7 linked regions of the Homo sapiens genome follow. The protein of the gene in region 7 purifies or fractionates together with the protein of the main gene of each other region. This does not show direct contact. Each region holds a gene or a part of one and is shown on either strand. Other genes may lie near its edges.

The links.
Region 1: the proteins of PRPH2 (region 7) and POTEE purify together in Homo sapiens (affinity purification with mass spectrometry; one large-scale study listed by BioGRID and IntAct). This does not show direct contact.
Region 2: the proteins of PRPH2 (region 7) and NCAM1 purify together in Homo sapiens (affinity purification with mass spectrometry; one large-scale study listed by BioGRID and IntAct). This does not show direct contact.
Region 3: the proteins of PRPH2 (region 7) and PCYT1A purify together in Homo sapiens (affinity purification with mass spectrometry; one large-scale study listed by BioGRID and IntAct). This does not show direct contact.
Region 4: the proteins of PRPH2 (region 7) and RAB9B purify together in Homo sapiens (affinity purification with mass spectrometry; one large-scale study listed by BioGRID and IntAct). This does not show direct contact.
Region 5: the proteins of PRPH2 (region 7) and TNFRSF10B purify together in Homo sapiens (affinity purification with mass spectrometry; one large-scale study listed by BioGRID and IntAct). This does not show direct contact.
Region 6: the proteins of PRPH2 (region 7) and CPNE9 purify together in Homo sapiens (affinity purification with mass spectrometry; one large-scale study listed by BioGRID and IntAct). This does not show direct contact.

Annotation. Positions count from the first base shown.
Region 1 is NC_000002.12:131,261,536-131,265,778, reverse strand, and holds the end of POTEE (POTE ankyrin domain family member E), read right to left. Parts: intron 4,054-4,243; coding exon 3,933-4,053; intron 2,425-3,932; coding exon 1,096-2,424; 3' UTR 501-1,095; downstream 1-500.
Region 2 is NC_000011.10:112,967,920-112,971,419, reverse strand, and holds part of NCAM1 (neural cell adhesion molecule 1 isoform 2 precursor), read right to left. Parts: intron 1-3,500.
Region 3 is NC_000003.12:196,246,227-196,249,726, reverse strand, and holds part of PCYT1A (choline-phosphate cytidylyltransferase A), read left to right. Parts: intron 1-1,403; coding exon 1,404-1,520; intron 1,521-2,208; coding exon 2,209-2,360; intron 2,361-3,500. UniProt on the Homo sapiens protein: Catalyzes the key rate-limiting step in the CDP-choline pathway for phosphatidylcholine biosynthesis.
Region 4 is NC_000023.11:103,825,758-103,829,257, reverse strand, and holds part of RAB9B (ras-related protein Rab-9B), read left to right. Parts: intron 1-2,179; 5' UTR 2,180-2,253; intron 2,254-3,431; 5' UTR 3,432-3,473; coding exon 3,474-3,500. UniProt on the Homo sapiens protein: The small GTPases Rab are key regulators of intracellular membrane trafficking, from the formation of transport vesicles to their fusion with membranes.
Region 5 is NC_000008.11:23,062,532-23,066,031, forward strand, and holds part of TNFRSF10B (tumor necrosis factor receptor superfamily member 10B isoform 1 precursor), read right to left. Parts: intron 1-3,500. UniProt on the Homo sapiens protein: Receptor for the cytotoxic ligand TNFSF10/TRAIL. The adapter molecule FADD recruits caspase-8 to the activated receptor.
Region 6 is NC_000003.12:9,710,333-9,713,832, reverse strand, and holds part of CPNE9 (copine-9), read right to left. Parts: intron 1,293-3,500; coding exon 1,229-1,292; intron 1,109-1,228; coding exon 1,005-1,108; intron 859-1,004; coding exon 754-858; intron 1-753. UniProt on the Homo sapiens protein: Probable calcium-dependent phospholipid-binding protein that may play a role in calcium-mediated intracellular processes. Plays a role in dendrite formation by melanocytes.
Region 7 is NC_000006.12:42,719,798-42,723,866, forward strand, and holds the start of PRPH2 (peripherin-2), read right to left. Parts: upstream 2,801-4,069; 5' UTR 2,538-2,800; coding exon 1,957-2,537; intron 1-1,956.

The sequences.
Region 1 (4,243 bases), on a different chromosome or scaffold from region 7:
AAGCAGTCTGGCCATGATTTGGTAAAGCAGCTATGCTGTGCTGTGGGATCTCTTCTGTCCCTCGTCGGTTTGTACTCTCCAAAGCCCGCAGGCTGGAATGACTAAGTTGCCTGAACGGGAAAGATGGCGGCCTGCCCCGTCTTTTCTCTCAGAGTTTTATCTTGTTTCGTGGAGCTTAATTTTTAGCCTGTTGATTTTACTGTCTACATTAGACTTGTTGAGAAAGAATCTGTTCTCTTTTAGGTGAGATAAATGAGAATTCATTGTCTTCTGTAAATAAACCTGTTCATGTCTTGTTCTCTGGAAAGAAGTCTCTTTCAGCTATCTGACTTTGGTCACAATCATGTAGAGCAGCAGCCAGTCTACAATGACGTAATTGAATTTCCATTTCCAGTGTTTCCTCGTTGTGTCTTACATTGTCCAGTTCAGAACTGAGCATTTTATTCTCAGTTGTCAACATGCTAAGCTGTCCACTGTACTGAAATACTGTGCTTCCTCAATTTTTTTTAAGGTGTGCACTTTTATCCAACTCTCCTCAAGTCAGAGTACAGGTAAGCCCTGGCTGCCTCCAGCCACTCTCAGGGAGACCAAAAGCCTTCATACACCCCAAGTTGGGGTACAAAAGAGGGGGGCCACGAAGGCTGATCATTCAAAATAAAACAAAATTAAAAAGTATTAAGGCGAAGATTCAAAAAATTTTGCATTATGTAATTTGCACAAAAGCAATGCTATCACCTCCCCTGTGTGAACTAGGGAGAGGACTGGGCCATTCTCCTTAGAGAGAAGTGGGATGGCTTTTAGCAGGGCAAGGGGCTTCCTGAAACAATGCGTCTCACAATATTTGGAATGACTATTGAAAAGAAGAACAATGTACAATCAAAGTCCTTGGCAACATTGTAGAACTTTGGAGGAAGCTTCCTCCAACCGACTGCTGTCACCTTCACCATTCCGGTTTTTAAATCCTGAGTCAAGCCAATAAAAAACAAAACAAAAAATGAAACAAGAAAACAAATAAAGCCATGCCAATCTCATGTTGTTTTCTGAGAAGTTTGGTTTTGTCAAGAAAGGGTGTAACGCAACTAAGTCAGAGTCCACCTAGAAGCATTTGCGGTGGACAATGGAGGGGCCTGACTCATCATACTCCTGCTTGCTGATCCACATCTGCTGGAAGGTGGACAGCGAGGCCAGGATGGAGCCACCGACCCACACGGAGTACTTGCGCTTGGGAGGAGCAATGATCCTGATCTTCATCATGCTAGGCGCCAGGGCAGCGATCTCCTTCTGCATTCTGTGGGCCATGCCAGGGTACATGGTGGTGCCGCCAGACAGCACTGTGTTGGTGTACAGGTCTTTGCGGATGTCCACATCAGACTTCATGATGGAGTTGAAGGTAGTTTCATGGATGCCACAGGATTCCATGCCCAGGAAGCAAGGCTGGAAGAGCGCCTCGGGGCAGCGGAACCGCTCGTTGCCGATGGTGATGACCTGGCCATCGGGCAGCTCGTAGCTCTTCTCTAGGGAGGAGCTGGAGGCCGCCGTGGCCATCTCCTGCTCGAAGTCCAGGGCAACATAGCACAGCTTCTCTTTGATGTCACGCACGATTTCCCGCTCGGCCATGGTGGTGAACCTATAGCCACGCTCGGTGAGGATCTTCATGAGGTAGTCAGGCAGTTCCCGCCCAGCCAGGTCTAGGCGCAGGGTGGCATGGGGGAGGGCATTCCCCTCATAGATGGGCACAGTGTGGGTGACCCCGTCACCAGAGTCCATCACGATGCCAGTAGTACGGCCAGAGGTGTACAGGGACGGCACGGCCTGGATGGCCACGTACATGGCTGGGGTGTTGAAGGTCTCAAACATGATCTGGGTCATCTTCTCGCGGTTGGCCTTGGGGTTCAGGGGGGCCTCGGTCAGCAGGATGGGGTGCTCCTCGGGAGCCACACGCAGCTCGTTGTAGAAGGTGTGGTGCCAGATCTTCTCCATGTCATCCCAGTTGGTGATGATGCCGTGTTCCATGGGGTACTTCAGGGTCAGGATGCCTCTCTTGCTCTGGGCCTCCTTGCCCACATAGGACTCTTTCTGATGCATGCCCCCCATCATGCCCTGCTGCCTGGGGCGCCCCACGATGGAAGGGAAGACAGCCCGGGGGGCATCGTCGCCCGCAAAGCCGGCCTTGCACATGCCAGAGCCGTTGTCAATGACGAGCACGGCGGTATCATCATCCATGGTGAGCTCATTCAATTGTAGAGCCTTTAAAAGATTATCATTCTTTTTTTTCACACTTTCAATATCCTCCAAATATTTCTTTTCTCTTAGCTGGCTCTGATGTTTCATTGTGTCTAGCTCCAGTCTTAGCATGGCAATTTCTTCCCGCAACGTACTATTTTCATGCAAGACGTCTTTTTCTTTCTTACAACTAAGAGAAAGCTAAGTAAACAAAGAGAACTTTTAGTTAGCACTCAATAGATTGACATATCATGATTTCTTCTGAAATTCAAAAATAACATGTATTTGTATAATGAAAGAATCCCCATAGTGGATATTTAACTGGAAAAAAATTGGACAAAACTTCAAACCTAATAAGAGTGTAAATTCCTCCAGTGATTTATTTTTCATCGTCTTTAAATAAATATTTAAACTTTTAGGAATCTGCTCCTAAATTCCTAAAAGTTTAAATATTTATTTAAAGACGATGAAAAATAAATCACTAGAGGATTTTTAAGAATCCCAGAATTAAAAAAGCCTTTTTCTGAGTTACAAAAAACCCAGAGGCATAAAATATAAGATTAATAATTTGACTACATTTTTAAGATTAGGTTTACACTCTGATATCTAACCTATCAACCACACCATCCTAAGAGCCTTAGCTATGCATATATTTGGACAGAAGCAATTTCTCAAAGTTCTTTAAGTTTCTTTTACTGAAGAACGTTTTACCGATATTCTACATTTCTAATATTTCTATACTCAGTTATAAGAATTACATTTATTTATAACTGTCAAATCTAAGCACTGTACCCTTCTACACTGTACACATCTGTATCTAGGCATTGCTCTTCTACATATAATACTGAACTCATTTAAGATCGCGATTCTTAAAAGGAGAGGTCAAAAAATATACACAGATGCAGGATTTTCCCCAGGTCTGCTGATGCTACTTCTAGTGATCCTCCACAAAACCACACTTACTTCTGTGGTGTAAATATATAAATACAAAAGAAACCTTTTGTTTCAAAATATGAATGGTAAATAAGATACAACTTATAGAGATCTTCTTAGAAATCATGAGATTATTTGCCATTGCGGTAACTTTTATTTCCTCTTTATAATGTTTGAAACAGTAGTAATGGTGAAATAGGGGAAATATACTGAACTATTTCTCCAGAAACAAAATACTTATCAATAAATTATTACTAAATGTGTATCATGGCATGTCATTGTTTTCAAACCTCTTTACACTGAAATGAGAAACTACTTGGAGCAAACTGTTCCTCTCTGCAAAAGTAAGGATAATGGTATCCACAATGTGGCCTCTGACCCAGCTATACATTTCCTACTTTCTTATCAGTAAAAATAATCAATTGACTTCTCTATTAACATTTTTTAAAAAACTAATGTCCAAAAACGAGAAAATCTGTTTTCAGTAGCAAAACTTATTTCTGATGTGGAAAGATCATCAATTCTTATGAAAAACATCAAATACTTCTCCTTTGGATTGAGGCCATTGTGCAGGTCACTACTCAACTGTTGCAGGCAAATGAAGGTGAATTAAGAACATGGCTTTATCCTATACGTACGTATATAGATATATGACAAAGGATATATAGAATATATACACACATATATATGACTTAAAAATCCTTTATATTTCCAAAATACAGTTCTTTAAAATATACACACATATAAAAACATTTGAAAATAACTAAAGAAAATACCTCAGAATTCATTTTTTCAACCACTTCTATCTGCTTTTCTTCATGAATCAGAATCTCATCGTGTAATATTCCAGTGTTCTGTTCTTCACAAAATTGCTTCTGAGTATCATTTTGTTCGTCACTAGAAGAAATTTTAATTTTCATGAAATACTGGAGCTGTCCCTAAAATGATGTACAGGGCAAGATGGCGCCATCAGATGTCATTCACACAATGCATATCTGCACATTATTCCAAGACAAGGCAAAGGGGTCTCACATCTGTTAACCAGGTGTCCCCAACCATGCTGGCACCAGGGACTGGTTTTGTGGAA
Region 2 (3,500 bases), on a different chromosome or scaffold from region 7:
ATACCTTCTGACGTACTCTTACTCCACTACAGACTGCTTCACCCTCTCTTTGATCCCACATTCTTCCTTCGATGACAGTAGCTTCCAAACTCTTTTGACCTGAGCCAAAAGAATGTATTTTCCATTACAACCAAGTTACATATTACACAGAGAGAGAGAGAGAGAGACAGAGACAGAGAGAGAGAGAGAGAGAAATTGAAGTACTCAAAGCAGTACTTACCCTTATATAAAACACACTCTCTTTTTCCACTTCTTCCCTCCTTCTCTCCCTCCTTCCTCCCCTTTTTCCTTCCTCTCTTACTTCTTTCTTAATATATATGGAAGCCCGTTAAACAGATTTCATCATCCATAGTTTGAAAAATACTGACCTACAAGTTAAGGTATTAGGAGGCCCAAACTTTTTCTAAAACCTAACCTGTCTCTTAATTTCTCCATCATATTTACAGTACCATGATTATTTAATTTCCTCGAGTTTGTAACTTCAAAGATCTTTCTCCCTCTCAGTCATCTACCATTTGGGATCTATCATCTACCCTTGGTTGCTTTGTTATTTCTAACATCTCAGCTATGCCCCCTTTATCCTTATCCAAAATCATTACAAGTGTATCTTTCCAAAATTTCCTGCTTTAGAAAATATATCATAGTTGGGTTTCTTTAATCAAACAAGCACCTCTAGCAGTACATAAAATTTGATTTTTATTTTTCAGCAACATGTCTACTAATAAAATGTATAGCTGTGAAATATTTCATTTACAATGCATTTCCCATATATTATCTTATTTTGTTCTTATATTCGATTGCGGAAGTTACAGTTCAAAGAGGTTACATAACTGATATAAATTCACTTGGCTAGTTAGTAGCAGAGCAACTTCTTGAACCCAGATCTTTCGAATCTAAGCCCAATGGTGTCCTTTCCCCGCATACAGGTGTTCCTACTGATTAAGCAAGATACTTTCATTGGACTTCACTAGCCTCCCTTCTCCTAGTATCATCTAGTTGATGTTTCATACAGCAATAAAAATCCCTTCGTTAGCCCTTCATTTTGTCCGACCACCATAGTGGATGCTATATAAAACCAGAATTCCCTTTTAGTGCTGCAATGAACTATATGAATTTGTTCCTACTTAACTCTCTGCTAATTCCCAGCTAGTCCCAAACATAGAGCCTGAGGCAGCACACGCTCAGTTGCTATTGTTAACTATCCTCTTAAACATATATATATATTTTTAATTTCTCTGTCATCTCCAGCAGGACTCCTCTCCTTTGTCTGACATTTAAGATTTAAATATGGCTTGCCCCAAGTTCCAGCCTTTAACTGCTCTTCAATAGCAATTCTTTGGCCAGATCCACCTCATCCTATAGGAAAACAGGCCCTCTCTCCCTATTTACCTTCATATCTGTGGAGGTCCAGGTCAGTTCTAGCTTTTCTATACCTCTTTTTTCCCCCAGACATTAAAACTAATAGACATGATTTTTGCCTCTCAATTTTCCCAGTTTTTACCTGCCTGCTTCATTCGGGCACTTACTGATATAATATCTTTCATGATTTCTTCGCAGCTTGAACTAAGCAAAAGTGCTTCCTCTCCAACCACCTGAAAGGGTCAGTATAGTAACCTTAAATTTATTTTGTTTTTCCTCTAAGCCTCTAGCACAGAACTTTGCACATCATATTCAGAGTACTGTACACCTTTTTAAACAAACATTTCAAATAAAATATCTGACCACAGGGAACTTTTTTAAAGCACATAATGAGTACATACTTTATATCTGCTTTACATATGTGGTTTTATTTCAGCTCACCAAGACCCACAAGGGAAGTGTCATTAACCCCATTTTACAGATGGGGAAACAGGCTCAGAACGACAGCAACTTGCAGAATGGCAGGACGGTTCCTTCAGACCACAGCTCTGAATAGTGCCCTTCCTCCCCATCACTCCTCCCACACTTTGGTCAGACTCAGTCCAGAAGCCACAGGAATTCCTGTTTGCTTGGCATGTATTCAGATGCTATATATATTCAAATTATCCTTGCCTTAGAAAAGGATAAAATTCAGACAACGAACGTAAGTTGCAGTCCCAGCTCCACCTGCCTAAGTCATTTAACCTTTCTCAGTCTCAGTTTCCATTTAAAGACTTACAATCTGGACTTGCAGAATTTTTTTTTCTCCTTATCTCTGGCTACTCCTCCCCACTACTCTCACACTGTTCCCCATGTACAACCAGATTCAGATCTCAACCACTGCTCAGGGTGTCTGCTCTGCCCAGATCACCCCTTCTTCCTGCTCCATCTAATGAAAGCAATTCTTCCCCAAGCCCAGCTCGAGGGAGTCCCAGGCAGAATTAATTGCTTCCTTTCTTGTGGCCCAACAGCATTTACTTCATGCCTCTGTTTATAAGTATAGTATGTCTGTCTCCCCTCCTTCCAGGTGGTAAGCTCTAAAGGCAGATGTATTATTTTCCTGGACTTCATAACGTGAAACTCCACACGATTCCTGAAGCTATCTGACCTTCTCCAGACTTCACAAAGGTTTGTTGAGTTAAGGAATTCAGGAATGTTTGTTGTAATTCAATGTTTGTTGAATTAAGTAGTCAATCAACCATGCCCTAAAATGAGAATACCATCTGTTCTTCCTATTTCACAGTTGTTTAAATGTTACATCTTCACCTCCCCAACCACCCAATCCCCCTTGATAATCTCTCATCCTGGGTTTTTCTTAGACTTGAATCTGAATATGTAATTATAAATGTATGTGTTACTTTTTAATGTCTATATTTCTCTGTACTACTAGACTGGAAACTCCATGAAAACAGGGACGATGTACGTTTAGTTCACCGCTGTATTCCCAGCACCCAGCACAGAGCACGTACTCAGTCAATATTTACTAAATAATTAGTGTGAAGATTAAGCACATATCAAAGTGTTTTGTAAACCATAACGTGATGATTAAGATATAATTATTGGTATTATATATCCAGTTTATCTCCTTTTAGATAGCTAAAACAAAATCTTCAGTCTCCTCTCCAATATCATATGCCTTTAGCTGGCAAAACTACTTCTTGCCCTGCCAATCGGGCACTTACATCTCACTCATTTGAATAATAATAGCAATTGCTTTATTTTCTTCTAGTTAGTAATTTACAAGAATATCGGCAGTGACAAATATCAAATCAGCTCAGATCTCATTTAAGATCTTCTGTCAAATAAAAGTGAAATACTTCTTTCTAAAAATGACTTTGACTTCAATATATGATTCTAATCTTCAAAGCACTACACATACAACCTCTATGAGGTCCACGTTTAATAAACTGGAACGATTAGTTTATATTCCCAAGCAAGTGGGTCCAAGTGGACCAAAGGATAGTTGCTAAAGAAGGACCAGAAGTTTTCAGGGTTCCTCAACTGCATGGACTCCTTCCAAGGCTCTGGGGGACTGGGACTTGGCAATGTGTTCTCATGGTCATGTATTCAACTAACCTTCGCAAAAGCAAGAAGAGTTTTGT
Region 3 (3,500 bases), on a different chromosome or scaffold from region 7:
GTAAATGCTCCTGTCAGTTTCTGCTGCAGTAAAATAGCTCTTCCTTTATTCACAGAAAGGGAATAAGTTACATGGACTCCTTAGATTTATTATTTAAAGCATGATGGACCATTATGCTGATTCTGTTTTTAATGTTTATTTCACTTTGGAATTAGTCTTGTTCCCCGGGAAATCATTTCCTGGCTTCTAAGTTGACAGTTCTCTGTTATTTGTTGTGCCTGAAAAGTTTGGTACAACCAGGCTAACAGAGGCAGTTAGTGCAGATGATGATGTCAAAAATCTCTTTATAGGCTGAGCATGGTGGCTCACACCTGGAATCCCAGCATTTTGGGAGGCCAAGGTGGGATTGCTTGAGTCCAGGAGTTCGAGACCAGCCTGGGCAACATGGTCTCTACAAAAAAAAAAAAAAAAAATTAGCTGGGCATGGTGGTGTCCATCTGTGGTCCCATCTACTTGGGAGGCTGAGATGGGAGGATCACTTGAGCCCAGGAGGTCAAGGCTGCCGTGAGCTGTGACCACATCAGTGCACTCCAGGCTGGATGACAGAGTGAGACCCTGTCTCAAAAAAAAAATGAAAAGGTCTTTATAGTCATTTTTCATAACCCAACCTACCCCTAAAATCAGGGTGAATACCCAGAGAACACCTAAAGAAAGGAGTATGCAGTTGGGCCGGGCGCGGTTGCTCACACCTGTAATCCCAGCACTTTGGGAGGCTTAGGCGGGTGGATCACGAGGTCAGGAGATCGAGACCATCCTGTCTAACACTGTGAAACCCCATCTCTACTAAAAAATAATACAAAAAATTAGCTGGGCTTGGTGGTGGGCGCCTGTAGTTCCAGCTACTCAGGAGGCGGAGGCAGGAGAGTCGCTTGAATCCGGGAGTTGCAGGTTGTAGTGAGCCGAGATCGTGCCACTGCACTCCAGTCTGGGTGATGGAGCGAGATTCCGTCTCAAGAAAAAAATAAAAAAAAAGAAAGGAGTATACAGTCATGGAACTGTCACACAGAGCCAGTTCCATTTGCCAAGTACAAGATATCGAATCAATGTATTTTTGTGGCTTGGCATGGTGGTTCACACCTGTAATCCCAGCACTTTGGGAGGCTGAGGCTGGCGGGTCATTTGAGACCAGGAATTCGAGACCAGCCTGGCCAACAAGGAAAAACCCCATCTCTACTAAAAACACAAAAATTAGGCAGGCGTGATGACATGCACCTGTAATCCCAGCTGCTTGGGAGGCTGAGGCAGGAGAATCACTTGAACCCAGGAGGCGGAAGTTGCAGTGAGCCGAGATCACGCCACTGCACTCCAGCCTGGGTGACAGAGTGAGACTCGGCCTCAAAAATAAAAATAAAAATGACAAAAAAAAAGGTATTTTTGTGATCAATTCTTTCATTTGGATTTAGGTGAGCGACCTGTGAGAGTTTATGCCGATGGAATATTTGACTTATTTCACTCTGGTCACGCCCGAGCTCTGATGCAAGCGAAGAACCTTTTCCCTAATACGTACCTCATTGTGGGAGGTAAGAAAACATTTGGTGACTTCAGGTGCTGTGCAGAAAAAGATGATAGTACAGTCTGTCTTTCTCAGCTGAGTACACTGGCTCTTGTTTCCATTTTTAAATGAAGGATGTAGTACAGCCTCTCTAACACACATGAAGTATATGGGTACCAGCAAACTAAACCTGGAGAGAGGAGCTTCAAGCTCCTCGACTGTGCCATCTGGCATTTATTCACTGCTTGTAGCTGAGTTTCTGTGGTCACAGGAGCAGCCGTGACTTCCGTTGTCCACTTTAAAACATTTGCTTTAGATTTCAGTTTATCATTTTGAATTAACTGGAGTACAAAAGTCTGCCAAGGAAATGTTAGGTGGTCCAGTCCAGTGTGAATAAAACAGGAAAACATGTTTAAGGACTTAATTGATGCAGACACGCACAGCAGGTTTATTTCAGAGTCAAAGATCTTGGTCACCTGTTGTACTGTCCCTTCTCCAAAGTATGAACATACTGTTTAGTGAGTGTTGCTCCTGAAGGTATACGCTGCATTAGGAAAAGCGTTATCACCCAGGTTCAACCACCTTTAGAAGACTTTTTTCCAGTTGGGGAAGATGGTTGCAGTCCTAAGCAGTGGGAGAAGATGGGAGAGGTCGGTGGCTGAGGAGGTGCTAAGCAAAGAGGACTCCAACACACAATTTATGATGTGGTGAACCAGTTTGCAGTGATGAGCTCACACACAACTTCAAAGGCTTCACGGTGATGAACGAGAATGAGCGCTATGACGCAGTCCAGCACTGCCGCTACGTGGATGAGGTGGTGAGGAATGCGCCCTGGACGCTGACACCCGAGTTCCTGGCCGAACACCGGGTAAGAAACTGGACACATATTCCCATTCCTTGTTTCAGAATCCCCTCAACTCTCAAAGCTGCTGGCACGTAGGCTGGTTTTCCACTAGCCGTGTTTTACTTCTACCTCTTATGTAAGTTTCGTAGGAGATGACAGTGATATTACTAGTGATAACAGTCACCCCTGACGTTTATATGGGGCTGGATGGTTTGCAAGCACTTTTACATCCATTCTATTCCATTTTCTGCCCACAGCAATCCTGTGGTGTGTTTGTCATTTCCGCTTTACATATGAGTAACAAGGGCTAGAGAAACCAAATAACCTGCTCCAAGTTACACCATTGGCAGGGCTGGGAACTGAACTCGCCACAAGTTACACCACTGGCAGGGCTGGGAACTGAACTCGCCACAAGTTACACCACTGGCAGGGCTGGGAACTGAACTCGCCACAAGTTACACCACTGGCAGGGCTGGGAACTGAACTCGCCACAAATTACACCACTGGCAGGGCTGGGAACTGAACTCGCCACAAGTTACACCACTGGCAGGGCTGGGAACTGAACTCACCAGTTACGAGACCTTCCCCCCACACCATAGGCACATCTACCCTTAGAACATGCCAGTCTCCTGAGAATATCCATAGCCCCAGGTGAACTCTGAAGACGGTCACATTACCAGGAAATAAGACGGATTAACATAGACTTTTCTTGGCTTAAGTTTCATTTCAGGGCTTTGATCTTATGCTAGAAATTGGGTGGAATCAGAAATCAAGGATATTTCTCACTGTTTCTCAGTAAGTTATTATCAACCCCTTACCTCCTTTTAATTCTCCCACATTAAAGTAACAGATTTCAGCCAGGTGCAGTGGCTCACGCCTGTAATCCAAGCACTTTGGGAGGCCAAGGTGGGAGGATCGCTTGAGCCCAGGAGCTCAAGACCAGCCTGGGCAACATACCGAGACCCTGTCTCTACTTTAAAAAAAAAAAAGCCACAGGTTTCCTGCAAAAGGTGGGTACAAAAGATGAGAAGGATTGATTAGGCCAGGTTAGAGGCCCCCAAGCCTGAGGAAATAGCAAGCATGTTGTCAGTTCTCTACAGGGGCGCGTGGAATGTTGTAGGTAAATTGTTCAGTGAGGCAGAAAGAATGAAGGCAGCCAAAGTG
Region 4 (3,500 bases), on a different chromosome or scaffold from region 7:
ATGCAGATGTTCAAGCTTGTTGAGGAACAAGGCATTCTCAAATATGGAAGAAAGAGAAAAGGAAGAATTCTTATACTTTCACTAGCAGGCCCTTTCTGAGAAGGGTTAATACTGAGCCACAAGGCCCCCACCAGTGCATGAAAGGAGGTGGAGGAGCCAGAGGAATAAAAATCTCAAACCAAATTTTTCAAAAAATGCTTACAAATCTTTGCAAACTTCATAAGCTTTTCATTCTCCCCCAAAATCCTGTTAAGTAGGGCAGGTATTATCTGCTCTATTTTTATGTAAGAAGATACTGAAACAGAAAGATTAAATGACCTGCCCAAGTTCATAAAATAAATGAATGGTGTAACAGTGATGAAGACCCTGGTGTCCTGATTACTGCCAGCTAGCTCAGTGCTCTTGACACTGAACCACATTGCTTTTCCTCTTTTTCCCTTGGCATAGAGCCTATAGGCCCAGAAGTTATGTGTGCACATAACCAAATAGGGAATGCACAAGCAACTGCAGCATTATCTCAGACAGTTATTAATACATCATCATTATTCCTGGAGCTGAGCATTTGGTTTCCATATTCACTCAGTCCTTGACCTGTCTATTGAGTTTATCTGCAACTGGGAGAATAGGGTCAGTGAGTCTTTTAATGATGTGAACGCCTGTTTGCTAGGAACTCAAGGAAGCTTGTGTGGCCTGGACGCTTAATACTAGCCATCAGAATCATGCCCAAGTTTGTACTTCTGTTGCTTTTCAAAATGAGAGTTCAAGAGTTTTGCTCTGTAAAATTATCCTACAGACCAGTATAAAAAAATAAAAAAGTGTGCTAACACTTGTTTCATCTCCATTTAAAGAAATGTTTGTTACTTGAGCTAATTCCAAAGACAGCAATTTGGGAGCAGGAAAAAGAGGACAAAAATTAGGAATTGTAGGAAACTTGAGAATTCTGTAGAGTGTATATAAACCAAGAAGGAGGATAAAGCCTATCCATTTAGGAGATATTATTTAAATTCATAATTACTGATTTAGATATCTAATGAATCCTTATTATAAGTTTTATCTATATTTAGAAAATAACATGTGATTATTAAGCAGCAGATTTTTTTTTAAAGCTTCGTTCTTCCTCAGTAAGAAATAACACTACACAGATCTAGGCACTGTTTTTCTTCTTAAACCAGTACTCTTGATGCTGCTTAAATAAGATTCTTGCCATAATTAATTATAATATTAGATGAATGTATATTTAAATTTAATAACACCAGCTAAATATTAAAACTGGTGTTTAAGACAGATGAACTGCCAGGTACAGCGGCTCACGCCTGTGAACCCAGCACTTTGGGAACATGAGGTGGGCAGATCGTTTGAACCCAGGAGTTTGAAACCAACCTGGGCAACATGGTGAAACCCCATCTCTACAAAAACTACAAAACTTAGCCGGGCATGGTGGTGCATGCCCGTAGTCCCAGCTACTCAGAAGGCTGAGGTGGGAAGATTACTTGAGCCCAGGAGGTCGAGGCTGCAGTGAGCCATGACTGCACCACTGCACTCCAGCCTGGGTGACAGAATGAGACCTTGTCTCAAATTTAAAAAATAAATAAAGAAAAGAAAAATGACCTAAACTAATTAATAAAATAATTAGCCAAGATAATATACTTTATTGTAAACAGGAAGCCCACAAACACAATTTTTTTCTGCTCTCTAATTATGTGGAATCAATTGCAGAGACAACCTTGAGACAGACTGGTGAGTGCACTAACAACTTTCTTGGAGATGGGAACGTTGGTAGGTATAAAAGGAAGAAGTTTCATCTCCGACTTAGGATTTCAGCATATCTTAGATTGCTCTGTACTTTCCTTTTCCTGAATGTCATCTATTGTGAATATCATCTTTCTTTAATTTGCTTTTACTTTGAATGGAGAATTCAATTGAGAGACAATATAAAATGTAAAAAATTATATAAATTACAAATTAGGATAAGTTAAAGTTCTTGGAATAAAATTATTTTGCTTATGTTAAGCATAGGTAGCATTTTGAACTTTTATTTTTGAAAAGCACCCTCTGTAGGTTACTTGAGGTTGCTGTGGGTTCTTTTTTTTTTTCTGACTTGAATATATTTTTATATAGAGCCTTAACGTTATTTTATTATAGATTTTTTTAAAATAATGTTTTCTATTCTGTTTTATAGCACCCTAAAAAGAAAGAATAAAACAACAACAGGAAAAAAAGGAAAATATTTAAATTGTGACAAAAACCCACTGGGTAGGTATTTCAAGGGGGCACACTGTGGATTTGGGATATTTTAATATTTGATCTCTTAAAAATGAATATTTAGAAAAATATATAGCTAGTACATAGGCATTCCAAAATCATTTTAAGGGCTACTAAATTTTGTAAAATTATATTCAAATGTGTGTGCTTCCAGAAACTGTTTTGCATGCACTCCTTCGATTAGTGATTCGTTTTCATCCCTTTGGGTCTATTGTATAAATATCATCCAATTAACCTCATCACCGTTGAGTTCCCACAATAGACCTAGTGGGAAAGTACCTAACAGAATATAGGAAAAGGTAGTATTTGTTCAGTAAGCATTTGATCTTTTTATTTTAAGACACATTCTAGGTGTTCCATGTGTAGACATGTTGTGGAGGTAACAAGTAGGGTACTGTATAAATATTAGCACTTTAAATTTTGCAGTATGTTTTCAAATGTTGCTATTATGGAATTAAAACCTGAATCCAAAAACTAATAAGCTATTCAAGATTTCCTTCCTTCATGACAGCTGTTATATTGATATCAGTCAATTGTCATCAACTTAAATGCCATTGTTCCATGAAGAAAAAAATATAGAAGATCCTTACTTGAGAGGGTGTTCCTATCAATGCAAGTATAATGGGGTAAATGCCTGAAGAAACGTAACCTTGTTCTCTCTTTCAAATTCTGGGGTGCAGTCTAATTCTGGCCCAGACCTCTACCGACAGAATCAAGAATCCAGTTTATGTAGCTTTCTCTTCTCAGTAATTTTTGTATCCATCAGGAGCAGACTTCAAACCCCAAGTCAATTTCATACTATTTGTCTATTGTTTGGAACTGTCCAAACCGGAAGCTAAAGTTGTCACACATTTGAGTGGCATTCCTGTTCTAGGCTTCCTCTCCTAGAATTGGGTCAGAACTGAACCAAATTACAGGACCATCTGCTAGTCCATTTACCCATGGCACTCAGCCATTTTCCTGGCACAACAAAAGACCTCAGAAAAACAAGACCTATTTTTCCCCTTATGCAAAATTAGTGTTATTTCTTCTGCTGTACTACATCAATTAATGAGCATAAATCAGAGAAGTTGAATGAGAAGGCCTTATAATTCAGAGAAATTTGCTATGAAGTTGATTTCAGTTTCAGGTTTAACTGTTTTCCCTCCTACTTTTCCTTTTATTTTCAGGTTCTCTTGGTTACAAACTCCTTCCCTTCTGGTGCTGCAAAAATGAGTGGGAAATCCCTGCTCTTAAAG
Region 5 (3,500 bases), on a different chromosome or scaffold from region 7:
ATTCTCTGTTTTATTTATTTCTCTTCTAATAATTATTTCCTTTATAATGCTAACTCTAGGTTTGGTTCATTCTTTTTCTAATTCCTACATTTGTAAACTTAGCTCGTTGATTTAAGATCCTTCTTCTTTTTTAATTAAACCATTTCTGGCTATAAATATCATAGATGGAATCAGATACTATATATGCTTTTCTGTCTGGTTTCTTTAACTCAGCATAATTATTTTGAAATTCGGTCATATTTTCATATGCATCAGTACTCCATTCCTTTTCATTACTGAGTTGTATGGCAGAATTAATATGGTAATATTATAAAATGTAGGAGACTTGAAATAATACAGATTGATTCATCTCCACTACTCATTCTTTCTGCTATAGTTGTCTCAGGCATGTTCATATGTTACAAACCCTACAAAGTGTTATATTACTTGATAGTGAATATTTTCAAGAAATTAAGAGGAAATAATCATTCTTTATATGTGCATTCATATTTCTATTCCTGATGATCTTCCTTCTTTCCTTAAGATCCATGTTCCCAGCCAGGCAAGGTGGCTCATGCCTGTAATCCCAGCACTTTGGGAGGCCAAGGCGGTGGATCTCCTGAGGTCAGTAGTTTGAGACTGGCCTGGCCAACATGGTGAAACCCGGTCTCTACTAAAAATACAAAAATTAGCTGGGTGTGGTGGCAAGCGCCTGTAATCCCAGCTGTTCAGGAGGCTGAGGCAGGAGAATCGCTTGAACCCAGGAGGCAGAGGTTGCAGTGAGCCGAGATTGCGCCATTGCACTCCAGCCTGGGCAGCAACAGTGAAACTGTCTCAAAAAAAAAAAAAAAAATCCATGTTTCCATTTCATTTCATCTCTATTCAGATTGAAATCTTTTAGCATTTTGTGTACTGCAGGTCTATGAGCAATGACGTGCCCATACTGTCTCCAATAGCACATTCAGGTTCCTAATTCTTAAAGCCATTTATGCCCATTTACTCTTTCTTATTTGGTAATGACCTCACCCAAGTCTCAGATTAGAAACACTAGAATCCACCACAAACCTCTTTCCTCTTCTTACCAAACCCATTGCATCACCGGCCTGCGTTATCATCATTTCCCTCAGATCTGCCTCAGCTGCCACTTGCCTCCTTCACGATAATGCAACCTGACCCTCACCCTAACCACTAGGACCCATCCCGAATGCTGTCCAGGCCACACCTGAGTGCACCCACCTAGTCCACTCTCCACTGGGTGAACAATGATCTTTAATGGGTGGATCTGATGAGGGATGTCCCCGGGGAAAACTTGACAATGGCCTTGGTGACTCTGGACTTGGGTGATCCTCCGTACTCTATTCAGATCCTCTGTTCTGTCCTCAGCCTGCCTGCCACACTCCCCACCTCTCACGTTTAACACACTCTATGAGCAGGCTGAGGACACAACGTCTGGGTTAGTGCAGCTTCCTAGAATCCACGTTACTCATTCATTCATTCATGGAAGGCATGTAGGCGCCTGGCGACCGCATATGCAAGGAGCCGTGGAGTATCGGGAACATGGCACGGCCCTTCCTTTCCTTAGCACAGTTTCCATTCACAGGAGCTGAGGCACAGCCATCATTAACCCCAAAGTCCATGAACTTGCAAAGAGTCTGGAGGGGCTGCCCAGGCAGAGGTGACAAATGCCATCGGTGGCAGGGACAGTAGTGGACATAGAGGAAAGAGTGCACACAGACAGAATCCCAGACAGACAGGAATCCAGTGTAATGGGGGAGGGGAGTAAAAACAAGAGAGGTACTGCTGAATTAATATTGTAATATGATTACAAAATGTAGGAGAGTTGAAATAATATAGATCCATTCATCACCATTCACTCTTTCTGCTGTGCAGGACGAGGCTGTGCCGTCCGTGGGCCTCTCTGATTGAGGGAGAATGGGCGTGTGGCCAGAGATGCACAGCTGTGTTGGGCCACAGAAATGGGCTCATGGGGGTGTCCATGGGCATGGTTAAGAGAGAGAAGGAAAACAAGAAGAAGGGAGGTCAGGGGTTTGGCTTATTTCAGTTCTTGTCCCATTGAATTCTAGGGACCCTGCCTCCTCCCGGACATGAGCCATTGGCGGGGTTTCCCTGTCTTGTGACTCACCCACCTGTGATTCAGGCTCCTTGCTTTACACCAAGTTTGAGCATAAAACCTGCTAATATTTCTCGTCAAAAATTAACCCGAGTAACCTCTTCTTTCCTCTCTGAGTCACCCACATCCTTAAAACTGCCCAGGATAATCACAGTTCCTGCATAGGTTGTTGTGTGAACTGAAAGTGTTAATATGTATGGAAAGTGCTTAAAACACAGAACTTTAAACACATGCTCTGATTAGTACGATCATTACCCTCAATGTTGATTTTAAGCAAACCATATTATCCTGGCCAAACTACCATGACCTGGAGCCTTGGGACTGCACAGCCTCCCTCTGTCAGTCAAATATGGAGGGATGACATCTCTGGAGCCAGCACAGCCACTCTGGAGGTGGGGGAGGTGACAGTGGTGGGACCTCATGCTTCCTGATAGTTATTTAGGTCCCTGCTGTCACCTGCTCCACCAGACTGTGGGCTCCAGGGAGTAGTCAGTATTCACACAGGGCTCATTTGTCCTTCCCCAACCCAGGCACAGATTTTCCCAGAGTAAAGGGTTCCTCCTCTACCTGATGAATGAATCACTCCTGTCCCCGCCGCCAAGCACATGCAGTGAGACTAGCTGTGGCCTCAGCTCACTGCGTAAGGACAGCCTCCAGCTACAGCAGGGGCAGAGGACCCTGTAGAGCTCTGTAGTCTCTGTTGAGAACCACAGGCAGGAACTCCCAGAGGCCAAGTGCAGGGCAGAGACTGGGAGAAGCAGCTGCCTGGAGGACTCTGGATCCTTGCAGAAGACATGTCCAGTGTCTGCTGAGACTGACTCTAGGTGCCTGAGAAGAAGCCACCCAGGGAAGGAGAGACTAGATTGTGGACCACTCAGGGCTGGGAGATCTGCATGTTCCCCTTCCCACAGTGGACAGAACGCATGCCAGGGTGCTGGCGAGTTACCATCAGAAGTCAACCACTATAACTTTAGTAGTTAACTAAATGAGCCCCTGAATAAGGCAACTGAACACAAGGTATATAGTTATATGTAGATAAAAGCTAGTATCAGAGGAGCAAACTGATCCTCAGTTTTCTGTGACCAGAATAATGCCCAATAGACTTTGAAAGAACACAGTGATGTTCGGTACCCAAGAAAGCAAAATTCACAATGTCAAGCAATAAGAAATTACTATGCATGAAAAAAAAAGTCCCTATGGGCAGGAAAAAAAATGTAATCAACAGAAACAGTGGCCGTAATAACAGATATAATGGTGTTGATAGATTAAATAACTTAAAACAGGTCATCTAAAGCTTACAAATATACTCAAGAATATTTAAAAAACAGAAAAACAAAAAACACCACCACCAAAATCATAGGTTGCGCACGGTGGCTCAGGCCTGTAATCC
Region 6 (3,500 bases), on a different chromosome or scaffold from region 7:
CCCAAAGTGCTGGGATTACATGTGTGAGCCACCGCGCCCGGCCCCTACCATCTGTCTTTATACTACCCATTTACTCATTCATTTGGTTGGCCTATCCATCTAATTTATACCCATCCATCAACTAATTCACCTACAAATCCATCCGTTCATCCATTTGCCATCTATTCATCTATCCAACCATCAATCCACTTGTCACTCTACCTATCTTTTTGTATTCCACCTGCTTTTCTATTCATCCTCCTGCCTCCCCAGTCATCCATCAAACTCTCATTTACCAATTTATCACCCACCCATCCATCAGCTCATTCATCCGTTAATCACCCATCACCTGTATATCCACAAACCCACCCATCAGTCCAATTATCCATTCTTCTGCTGTCCATTCATTTATCTGCCCCTCTACCCACCCATCAATTCACTCATATATCCATCCACATACATATCCAACCATTCACCAGTTTACCCATCCAACGATCCATCCATGTATCTGCTTATTCATTTGTTCATCTGCCTTTTCATCTACCCATCCACCTACCATTCCATCCATCAGTCGATCCATCCCTGGATAGTCCACCTATCCATCTGTGTGGCTATCCATCTGCCTGTCCATCCACCCAACCTCATGCCCCAAACTCTGTCTCACTGAGCAGGACCCTCCAACGCTATTATGATACTTCTACTATCATTCTTGGGCCCAGGAACCACACTGGCATGTCCTTGGCTCCTTACTCCCCAGCTTATGCTGGAGCCAACCTGTCATAGTCTCCATTGCACAGAGCCCGCACAGGGATGCTGAAGGGCTGCCACACAGGATTCAGCGTGTTTTTCACAACCTCTGTCTTGTGGCAGATGGTGAACCTGGAGGGGAGTGGGAAGAATTGGTATAATTTATCTCGTGCCCGGGGTAGGACTGAATCCAGATGCTCTCAGAGATTCCTGAGATTCCCCCACTTGTTAAGCACATGGCCCACCCCAGCCTAACAGCCCTGATGGCAGTGACTCACGTGCCATCCTCATTGCTCCTGTAGAACACAAGGAAGGGGTCTGATTTCCCAAAGAAGTCCTTCTTGTCCAGCTTGTTTGCACACAGCTGCATGGTGGCAATGTCCTAGGGATGGATGAAGTTGGGCTGGTGGCACCCCAATTGTCCATAGCCTTCAGACAGTCCATTAAAGGGTTTACGGGGAGAGAAGGGAGCTCCTGGGTCTAGCATGTGGCCCTTACTGACCCGACAATTGCTAAGCTCTTCTGCAGTCAGCAATATGGTCCCACACTTCTTGCCTGGTACACCCCTGGAAGCAGAAAAAGCCTCTTAGTGAGAGGAGGGAGGGTAGGCAACAAGGATTGAGTGGCCAGTCTGGGGTTAGGTGGGCCAGGGGATTCAGTTTGCCATTTACTGACAGTCCCTTGTGTCTTGAGTGCCTTCTGGTGAGGAAGGGCCTCACTTTGACTGGGTGGGGTCTGCAGTCTGGTGAAAAGGGGTTAGAACAGCTTAGGTGAACATCTCACAACAGTAGCATGAGAAAGACATGGGATTTAGAGCCAGTGGATTTTATGATTGTTAAGCTGTGTGACCCTGGGCAAGTTATTTACCCTTCCTCGGCCTTAGTCTTTTTCTCTATGAAATGGGAATCATGATGACTTGTCAGGGCTGTGAACAGATCTGAATGAGTGCATGGAAGGAAAAGCAACTCGTAAGCCTTATAGATATGAGCTGGTTGTAGTCTTCAAAGCTGACTCTGGTTCTTACTATATGCTGGGTGCTGTGATAGATATGAATTGGGCAACTGGCTCTCTCCGGCTCTGCTAGACTGCCCGCAGGGAGCTTTGGGGGCGGGGGTAGGTGGAATGTCAATGCCAATAGGTAAGTAGAGTGGATTGTAGTGATACTGAATGAGGGAGAAGAATTTCTGTCCAGACCCAGGGACAAAAGGGCTAGCTTGTTAGGTCAAAGCTGATGTGCTTTCTGAAGACCATGGAGAGGGAGATTTAAAAGACAAGGGAAACTTTATCCTTTCCTGACCCTAGAAGGAACACTTCCATGTGCTTGAATGGTGCATACGAGAACCCCCATCCCCAGCAGTAAGAGACCTTGTTGATAGGGGCCTGTGAACCCTGATTCCCAAAGGGATCCAAAATGTGGCAGAGAGAAAACTAGGTCAGGAGGGTCCTGGGTTCCAGTCCTGGCTCTAACTTGCTATGTGATTTTCCCTATCCTTAGAATGAGAGTTGAACTATTTCTTTGGCTCCTTTGATCTTTGACTCTTTGTGCTTTGCAAAGAGGGAGTGTGATGAGAATAGGTTCTATTCGCCTACGGCTGGGCGCGATGGCTCACGCCTATAATCCCAGCACTTTGGGAGGCCTAGGCGGGCGGATCACCTGAGGTCGGGAGCTCGAGACCAGCCTGACCAACATGGTGAAACCCCATCTCTTCTAAAACTGCAAAAAAAAAAAAGAAAAAATTAGCTGGGCGTGGTGGCGGGCGCCTGTAATGCCAGCTACTCGGGAGGCTGAGGGAGGAGAATCGCTTGAACCCGGGAAGCAGAGTTTGCAGTGAGCTGAGATCAAGCCCTTGCACTCCAGCCTGGGTGACAGAGTAAGACTCTGTCTCAAAAAAATAAATAAATAATTCGCTTGCACATCCAGGACCAACAAATTGTTGATCCTGTTGCCTCCTCACTGTTCTTTGCCTCTTTGATGTTCTCCCTTACCACCTCATCCATCCAGTGTGAATTCCAGTCAGTGATTATAATAATCATTCCCTTGCATCCTGTCTCTTTTTTCCCTTCTCTCACTTTTTTTTAAGAGTTGGGGTCTCACTATTACCCAGGCTGGAGTACAGTGGCACAATCATAGCTCACTGCAGCCTCAAATTCCTGGACTCAAGAGATCCTCCCACATCAGCCTCTCAAGTAGCCGAGACTACAAGTGCACACACTACACCTGGCTAATTTTAAAATTTTTACTTTTTTAGAGACAAGGTCTGGCTATGTTACCCAGACTGGTCTTGAACTCCTGGCCTCAAGAGATCCTCCTGCCTCAGCCTCCCAAAGTGCTTTGATTACAGGCGTGAGCCACTGGCCCAATCTTTTCTCTCACTTTCGATATATTTACTTGGCAGAACCACAGCTCTAGTTAAGCCTCACTCTGCCTAACCCACACTGCACCTGTGAAACTGAACATGGCCAGACAAAAACACAATTATGCGAACTTGTCTCATTTCAAATGCATGATGCAGACTTCAAGAGGGTCCTTATTGCTACCTCAGAGTCATACTGTACATCCCAAGGCCCTTCACTCTCCAGTTCTGGTAGATGGCAGTTTCACTCCTTCTTTCTCCTCAACCCCTAAAGCCTCCTCCCCCATCCTCATTCTCAGCCAATGACCTTGTTTCCTACTCACTGAACAAAATTGAAGCAACCAGAAGAGAATGTCCACCCACCACCACACCTACCTTGCCACCAGTATCTTCACCCACACAAGTGTGACTCCTACAGTT
Region 7 (4,069 bases):
AACTCAGGTGATCCGCCCGCCTCGGCCTCCCAAAGTGCTGGGATTACAGGTGTGAGCTACCGCACCCGGCCCTAAATTGTCTTTATACTATCATTACACTGTATGATTATGTAAATGTTAACAAGACTAGACTGAAACTGAAATGTAGAAAAACTAAAGGCATTAATCAAGTTATGGGTGAGAAGCTAGCTTGAATTTGTTTTCCTATTTTGGCTTCTTTTAATATTACTGCTGTATTTTTTGTGCGTGTAATAGAAGAATTTTTCCAAGTCAGTGGAGTTAGGAAAATTTCCCACCAACAAGTTGGTATGGGACATTGAAGGAGTTTTGATTCAGCTAAATATTTGCCTGAAATTTTGGATCCATTGACCATTGAGAGTGGAGTGACCTAGATAATTCCTTCACTCTGATACAAAAGGGGATTTGGAGTTACCGAGAGATTTGAATACATCTGTCCAAGAACTGACTCTATGCAGGAGACAATCAAGGGAAATGATAGAGGAAAAGATGAAAAGCCCCTTCTCTGTGAGCCTCTGCTCACAGAGGCTGGTTCTACCATCGGCCTCTCCCACTCCCCAGAATTCTGCTTGTCCCCCTGGCTTCATGCCCTCCTCGGGAGATTTATGTAAATCGTGGCATCTTGTGCTGCCCCTGCAGACCTGTCACCTGGGAAGGGCACAGCCCTTTACAATCCTCTCCTGACTGGGGATTTGCAGCAGTAATCTCCATCCACAAGAAAATAAAATCCCAAGAAGTGACCTTCACTTGGACGTCCCTTCCATCTGCAGGGCAGATATAAGCTAGCTATTTGGGCGTCATTAATGTTGTTTTGGGCTTCAAACATGTCCTGCTGCTGGTGCCAATGCCCTGAGTTCAAGTTCCCTTTGGACTTGCCAGCCTCACTGGGAAGAAAAAAAAACCACCCTTAGGAATAACTGAACCCCTAACCTCAGCCAGGTAGGGTCGAGTCAGACAGAAAGAAGAGGTGAGGGAAAGCGGCTGCCTCAAGGCAGGCTGCCCTTTCCCTGAAAAGTCACTCGAGCCCCAGGTTGGTGGGTGTGTTGGGAAGAGCAGCCCGCTGGAGCCAGTGCACAGGCTGTTCCCTCCGACACAGTGGTCGAGAGTCTCTCTCTCACCAGCACCTCCCACAGCCCATCGCAGCATTTTACTTTTACATATGCCAAGAATACTTTAGAAATGCTTTATCACATTGCACTATCATGACTCGCTAAGTAAACACCAGCAAGCATTTAATGAGTACCTGCTGCATGCCAGCTACCAGGCAGGGCTAGGAGGTGACTTCCAAAATTACCTATTCTATTCCAGTGCTCATTTAAAAGATGGGCAAGCCAAAGCGCAGAGTGACTAGTGACCTGCCCAAGGTCACAAGACCTTGAACAACAGAACCAAAACTTCACCCTAGATCTCATGACTTCCCCTTCCTATGCTCTTTCCAACATATCCAGACAAACATCTTGGGAATGGATGCTCAGGGTTGAAAGGTTGGAAAACAAGGGAACTAACTAGGAAATTTAAACTTCTGGGACTGAATCCATCTACTTTGAATGAATGGGACAAATAGCCAAATAGTACCTCAGTGTTTGTGATCTATGAATGACTTCCATCCCTCTGTATAAAGTGGACACACATTGCTGCCTGGCTCTTCATCCCAAGGGGCTCCTATCCAAACAGCTTATATAAATTGATACCTTCCTACCACCTTAGCCAATGTTAGGTTGAACCCTATGAAGTTGTCATTTTTTATGGGTCAAAGAGGTAGAATATTAGCAATTTCATATGGTTCCACCTGATACACCCTCACATACGCAGCAATAAGTTGTGCACCCGATGGAGAGGAAAAGGCACTGGGTGCGGGGAGAGGGGCTGGTCAGAGGCCTGAGCCTCAGTGTCCCCAATATATTCATAGCTCTGACCCCAGGACTGGAAGCCACTCACTCTTTGACTTCTTTGGAGGAAAAGTCCAGGTAGCGATTGCTGATCCACTGAATCTCAAACCAGTCCCGAAAACCGTTGTTGCCGCAGCATTTGAACTCGATCTGCAGCATGTCGATGGTCTTCTTCATGAAACACCTGCCAGGGGTGTCTGTGTCCCGGTAGTACTTCATGCCGTTCTTGAGCCCTTGGCCCAGGGTGTTCTCCAGCGAGCCCCGAAGCAGAAAGCAGCAGAGAGCCACAAGGAAGAGGATGATGTTGAAGAGAACACAGATAGCCAGGTACGGCTTCAGCCAGGGCTTCCATCTGGCATACTTGGCTGGGTCCAGGGCGTCGTAGCAGATCTTCCCAGCCAGCGAGTTGAAGACACAGGATAGCACCCCCATCCCTATCAATGAGTTGGGCACAAAATGGCTCTCAGAATTATTCATCACATCGCTCCTCTTTCGGAGTTCAATCTTCAGGAACAGTCCTAGGCTGAAGATGATGATGCCAGCCAACACGGAGAACCAGTTCATGAGCCAGAGCCCTTGGGCCAACTTGACCCGCTTCTTCTGGTCAAACTTGACTTTCAGTAGCGCCATGCTTGCCAAGTGTAGTCCGGGTTGCTTCCCACAGCACAGCTCCCACCCCAAACCTTAACGAGCCCAGAGGCGGAGACTTAGGGCCTTGGGAAAAGTGCAGATGGCCCAAGCTGTAGGGAGCTGCCCTGGGGGCTACCCATGTCGAGTCCCACTAGCCTGGGATCCCCGTGAATGCAGTAGTGGTGGCAGGGGTCTCGGAATCACAGCTTGAGCAGGGGATAGTCCTGGTCCTGGGCGTTGTTTCTTCAGCGCCCTTCCCAGCCAAGAAGGGGCAGCCTGAACGCTGCAGATTAAAAGTGGGATCCACAAGACATTTTGCTAATCTCTTTAGCCAGGTTCATCCCATTAGATAAAGCCATGCCACTCTCAAAACATGGTCAAAAGCAGCCTCCAGGTACATGCTGAACCAGAAAGCTCTGGGTACAGCTTGGAGAATCAGGAGCAAAGGGCAAGACTGGCCAGAAGAATGGGCTGTATCTGGATGTCTGGCTCAGACCGTGTTGCTCCCCAAAAGCATATTTCCAGGCCAATCTCCTTCAACATTTAAAACTTTCTGTAGGACAAATAAATTGTTATCCTCTCTGAGAAAAGAAATGACAGGGCCAGGCACAGTGGATCACGCCTATAATCCCAGCACTTTGGGAGACCAAGTTGGGTGGATCACTTGAGCCCAGGAGTTCAAGACCAGCCTGGGCTACATAGGAAGACCCCATCTCCACACACACACACACACACACAAAAAAAAAAAAAAAAAAATTAGCTGGGTATGGTGGCATGCACCTGTAGTTCTCCCAGCTACTCTGGAGGCTGAGGTGGCAAGATCACCTGAGCCTGGGGAGTTCAAGGCTGCACTGAGCCATGATCGTGCCACTGCACTCCAGCCTGGGTGACAGAGTGAGGCCCTGTCTCAAATTTTAAAAAGACAAAGAAAAGAAGAGAAGAAGGAAGGAAAGAAAGAAAGTGACAGATCGTGAGAAAACATTTGCAACTTGTAAAATTAAAAAGTAATATACAGTGGCCAGGCATGGTGGCTTATGCCTGTAATCCCAGTACTTTGGGAGGCCAAGGCAGGTGGATCGCTTGAGCCCAGGAGGTGGAGGTTGCACTGAACTGAGATCCCCACATTGCACTCCAGCCTGGGTGACAGTGAGACTCTGTCTGGAAAAAAAAAAAAAAGAATTAATATGCAAAAATGTTTTAAGTCTCACAAATTCACAATAAACAAAAATTCACAATCAAAAGACCAATAATCAACTGGAAAAATAGGCAAAAACCAGGAACAGACAATTCATAATTAGGAAACTTGAAAAGTCCAATAATCTGGAAAAGATCTCAACTTGGGTAATAAGCAGGAAAATGCAAATCCAAACAACAATAAAATACCAAACTTGGCCGGGCACAGTGGTTCACACCTGTAATCCCAGCAGTTTGGAAGGCCAAGGTGGGTGGATCACTTGAGGTCAGGCATTCAAGACCAGCCTGGCCAACATGGTGAAACCCTGTCTCTACTAAAAATACAAAAATTGTCTGGG